2 separate regions of the Homo sapiens genome follow, and region 2 is linked to region 1. A link means that fine-mapping ties the variant in region 1 to the expression of a gene that starts in the linked region. Tissue or cell type: monocytes. Region 1 holds a variant in brackets; the other region holds the start of a gene. All regions are shown on one strand. Distances are between the middles of the regions.

The links. PIP is the estimated chance that this variant, and not a neighbour inherited with it, causes the effect.
Region 2: NOTCH2 starts here. The variant in region 1 is fine-mapped to the expression of NOTCH2 in monocytes (TOPMed, PIP 0.92).

Annotation. Positions count from the first base shown.
Region 1 is chr1:120,130,117-120,132,802 of GRCh38, reverse strand. No RefSeq gene overlaps it. Among named protein-coding and RNA genes, the nearest start is that of SEC22B, 45 kb to the left of the region's middle. The variant C/T (reference allele first, on the strand shown) is at 1,399.
Region 2 is chr1:120,068,333-120,071,018 of GRCh38, reverse strand. It overlaps NOTCH2 (notch receptor 2), which reads left to right and starts at 1,357. Exons shown (of 34, transcript NM_024408.4): 1 at 1,357-1,685. The coding sequence starts at 1,613. It overlaps LOC101929178 (a long non-coding RNA gene), which reads right to left and starts at 1,191. Exons shown (of 2, transcript XR_254374.4): 1 at 1,008-1,191.

The DNA.
Region 1 (2,686 bases):
TAGGAGTATGGAGACCTGGGTTCTGGGTTCACCTCTGATGCAGGCTGTGTGACATTAAGCAAATCCTAACCTCTTGGGACTGTCTTTTCATCTGCAAAATGAAGAGGTAGAATTTAGTAAGTTTGAGTCCCATCAATGCTTAAAATTCTATAATTCAGAAAGGCAGGCCATTCTACCTAGTTTCATCCCGCTTTAGCTCAGCCTTACTCAGATATGCTGGCCAGATGTTTCTAATCTTACACATAAAAGACTCTGGTATTCAGAGGCCAAAAGAAACTGGACAATTTAAGAAAAGTACTAAGCGGATGAGTTTTCCTTCTGTCTGATTCTTAAACAGCTACATGACTATTATTCAAACTTAAGAAAACAGGAAAAGAAAAGCAAGTATGCATATTTAGGTTTGAATCAACTATGTGAATATTTAGCCATGAAGAAAAGTGTGTTTTTTTGTGTGTGTTTTATTAATTATTATTTGTACAACAACCAAAAAGTAGACGTCAGCAGTTTTCAACTGTAACTATAACCTTGTACCATGTGGCTGTGGGCCGAAGTGCAGGAGGGAGTAGCTGGAAGGGAATCTGGCTAGAGCCTTCCCCTGCTCTGGAAAGCTCGTGGCTTTGTTTTTTTCACATTGCTACACCGAGACGGAGGAGAGGAGGATGTTTGGGTTTACAGGCCACCAGCCACTGTCAGCAAGTTTGTAGCCCCAGCTTCACTTCCCTGAAAGGGCGGGGGAGTTTCAGCTGCCCTGGCCTCCCTCCAGCAACTGAGCCACAGAGGATTCAAATACCCCATCAGTTGCAAGGCCCTGACTTTACCCAGCTGAAAACTGACTATCTCATCTGGGAAGGGTCAGTTAAAAAATGACAGAACTGCCTAAAGTAAACAAAGGGAACAACCACAACAGAAACTTTCTCTGCAGTGTTTCCTTATAATTACCGGCCCATCCCACCAGGGCTCTGGCTTGAGTCCCCATCCACTCTCCCTGTTGCCCCCACAGGACCTTGTTTGAGTAAGCCCTAGCTGACCTGAGGATCGCCTCCCTGTCTACATGCCTCTGTCCCGCCCTCTCCATGGAGGGGAGGGAGACTCCCGATTGCAGGAAGTTTTGAGAATGGAGTTTGAGGATTGTCAGGCAAAAAGACCCTCTAGAGCTCATTCATTAGGACCCCTAATAGATGAGTAAACAGCTTAAATGAAGTGCCTAAAGTTGAGAGCAAGTATGGGACAGAACTGGTTTTCTTCTTGCTAACCAAGTGCTCTTTCCAGTAATCATATACCGTTGTAAGGGACTAAAGATAAGGAAACTAACATTGAAGTTCTTTCTCCACCTTTTCATTCTAACCAAATCCTACTTTGTCGGACTTTTACACTTTATAGATAGGCTGGGCATGGTGG[C/T]TCACACCTGTAATCCCAGCACTTTGGGAGGTTGAGGTAAGTGGATGATGATGTCAGGAGTTCAAGACCAGCCTTGCCAATATGGTGAAACCCCATCTCTACTAAAAATAAAAACAAAAAAAAAATTAGCTGGGTGTGGTGGCGGGCGCCTGTAATCCCAGCTACTCAGGAGGCTGAGGCAGAGAATTGCTTGAACCCGGCAGGCGGATGTTGCAGTGAGCTGAGATCATGCCACTGCACTCCAGCCTGGCTGACAGAGCGAGACTCAATCTCAAAAAAACAAAAACAGAAAAACACGCTTTATAGATAAACATATTTTGAATTTAGACTTAAGGACAAGGACTAAATCTTACACTCTGTGTACCTTGTTCGTACTTCAGAGTTCATGAAGTGTGTTCATGGTCAGCAGCCAAGTAGAGTGGGTAGGACATTTGCTTCAGAGTTGAGCAAGCCTCAGAATCCCATCTCTGCACATTCTAGCTGTGTAAACTTGTAGGCAGATTACCTACTCTAAAACTTAGTTTCCACATTTGCAAAAGGGGAACAATAATAGCTCCACCTCATTATTTTGTCATGAGGATTTCATGAGATGATACATGTAATGCACATTGAAAAACTCAACAAATGTTAGAAATTGTAAATAGGTCTGGAAGGCATTTATCATTCCCATTTTACAGATGAGAAAATTAAAGCTCAGAGAGTTTAAGGGCTAGAGTCATACAATTGGTTAGTAAGATAGCTAGGATTTAGCTCAGCCTCCCAGCTCCATATCCACAGTACTTGCTGCCCCACCATTGAGTGTAGACAATTGGGGATGGCTCTAAGCTATGGGCCAAATATGTCTGTCCCTATCATCATGGAATGACATGTTATTTATTAAGCCCATATATGCTTGAGGTGCCAGGAAATGGATGCTTCTGGGGTGAGGTAGGCTCTTCATGTGCAGCCTTCATGTACAGATTCCAGCCAAGGAAATCAAGCCTGGCACTAATCCCTTGTCCAAGCCCAGAGACGCTGTGCCCACGGAGTAGGTCAGAAGTCCTTGAATATCCTCAGCTTTCCTTTCCTCTGGCAATGCTTCCTTGATGCCCTAAGAATATTTTGCTTACCCTGACATTAGAGCCCTCTTCACACTCCCAAGCTTTCTAGTATTTTGGGTGTGCATCTGATTCTCCTGTTGAAACTGGACTCCAAAGTGAAGTGCTCAAAATGGTACATAGAGGTATGAGAAAAACATATGTGAATACTTGCTTCTATTTATTTTTTAATCTAAAATATTAAGAAAATT
Region 2 (2,686 bases), 62 kb after region 1:
CAACTCTGTTCAAAAACTTTCAATAGTTTTATGTGACCTAAGAGGTAGCTGCCTCCCCACCCTTTCAGCTTGCCATTCAAGGCTGCATAATTTGGTCCCAACCCCCTTTCCGTCCTTGACTCCTCTCACTGCTAACAGAGACAGAACTCATTTACTTACTCTTTTGACTGTACCTTTGCTTTCACGAGGGCTCTTTCCTGGAATGATATGTCCATACAACTATTGTTGCTGTTCTTACTTTTAGCTCTTTTCTTAGAAGCCCACTTGTACCCAGGTTTGATCACACCCCCTACTCTCCTGCCCTGGAAGTAACTACTATTCTGGTTATAGTCTCTTAATATCTATATCTATATATATGCATCCACAGATAATGTGTAGTATTGTCTTGAAAAAAATATACATAAATGGTATACTTTGTCTCCCTCTGTGATTAGTTTTTTCACTATCATTTAGTTTTTAAGATTTATCCCTATTGACATAAATAGCTATAGTCTTTTCAATTACTGTGTTGCATTTCATTTTATAAATATACCATACATTATTCATCCATTCCTCTAAGGGTGGGCATTTATGTTGTTTTCAAGGTTTTGCTATTACAGTGTTACAACGAATATCCTTAGCTTAGCTGGTCTCCTTGTCTTATACAAATTTTACTGACCTTTCAAGATCCTGCTTTCATCCCAGCTCCTCTGGGAAAGCCTTCCCTGAATCCCCCAGCCCACAGCGGCAAAGTCTTGGTACTCAAAGTTGCTTGTGCATCTTTGGTATCATCCCACTGCCAAGCACACAGCTACGCAAAGTAAGGCACTTAAGAAATATTCGCTACACGGATGAACAAATGAATGAATGAATGGGGCAGCACCACTCCGTGATGGCTCTATTCCTTTTTAATGGACTTTGGCGCCTTGGCCCACTTTCCTTCTTTGACAGCACTGGTCCTACTCCAGAGCATTCCTCTAGCTAGCAAAGCAGTGTGTGGATGTGTGGGTGTAGGTGGCGATACAGACCTCACTGGATGAGGACCGCCTCTCCCTGCAAGTTCACGATCCCGGCAAACTCCAGTGCTTGAAGTTCAGAGTCCTACCCCACCCCCCTCACCCCCACGCCCCTTCTGCACTGGTCAAGCCAGCGAGCCGCTGCAGCCCTGATCGAGTTAAGGCGCGGCGGCCCCCGGGGCCGCTGGAGAAGGATGCGGACGGGGCCAGTGACTCGTAGTAGATCCCTCCGCGCGGAGCTCGGGCCGGCGCTTCTTCCTGCGGGAAACCCCTGGGTGCCCAAGGCGGCGGGGCCGAGGCCGCGGCGACAGTGGGGCGGGGCTTGCGGTGGGAGGAGGCGGCTGAGGCGGAAGGACACACGAGGCTGCTTCGTTGCACACCCGAGAAAGTTTCAGCCAAACTTCGGGCGGCGGCTGAGGCGGCGGCCGAGGAGCGGCGGACTCGGGGCGCGGGGAGTCGAGGCATTTGCGCCTGGGCTTCGGAGCGTAGCGCCAGGGCCTGAGCCTTTGAAGCAGGAGGAGGGGAGGAGAGAGTGGGGCTCCTCTATCGGGACCCCCTCCCCATGTGGATCTGCCCAGGCGGCGGCGGCGGCGGCGGAGGAGGAGGCGACCGAGAAGATGCCCGCCCTGCGCCCCGCTCTGCTGTGGGCGCTGCTGGCGCTCTGGCTGTGCTGCGCGGCCCCCGCGCATGGTGAGTATCGGGCTGAGGGGCGCTGTCCGCGGCGCCCGGGGCTGCCACCTGGGGCGACCCTTCTCCCCCTCGGTCCTTCTCTGTGTGGGAAGGCCAGGCTCGGCCGCCGGCGCGGAGCGAGGCCACTCGCTGGGTTCCCAAGAGTTTGGACATCGCCGGGGGCCCCTCCCGTGGTGCCCCGCCAACCGCCGGGGTTCCCCGCCGCCTCTGCTCCCCGCGGCCCGGGACCCCTTACACGCCTCCTCGGCAGGAGGGAGGCCGGCAGCAAGTCTCAGAAACTCCTTTTTCGTAGTGCCAGGGTGCAGGGAGGTGGGCAGTTTTGCCCTTCAGGTTCCGCGTTTCTTGGGGTCGAGCGAGAGCCGACGGCGGGCCTCGGAGGGGCTGAGCGAAGGAATGCCAGATTCTGGCGTGGAGAGCGGGGGCAGGGCCGCCAAGCCAAACGGCCTGCACCGTCGCAGCCAGCCTCGCCTTTGCCAGGGGGCGGCACATGGGCCGGGTGTGTGGGCTTGGTTTGGATGGGGACGGGGTTTTGCGGCGCGCCTGAGTTTTGACACTCCAACCCCACCGAAAGTCCGGGGGAGCCGTGTGTGCTGCTCGCGTCTTTGAAAGGTGGAGGCAGGAGAAGTAGGGCAACTGGTGTGGCTGCATGCTGAGGCACATGATTTAAAAATCTCAACTGCTGTTATTCTTTCCGAGGCGCGGAGCTCTGCTGCTGTTTCAGGCTGTGTCCAGACCCAGGAATGTGGTGTGACGATCACCAATTCCTCCAACCTGGCAGCAGCATTTGCTGCTCCTTTGGCATGGCTGGGGGTGGGGCACGGGCGGGTGAGAAAAAGTGGATACGTTAATTCAAAGGGCTTCCTTAGAAAGCTTCTTTATGGTTGGATGTTTCTAACACGGTTGGACCAAGGAAAGGGAATCAAATCATATCTTCCCCATCCCACCCACACTTTTAGATTCTACATTTCTTCAGACCCTTTAGTGGAAATAACTTGGGCTTT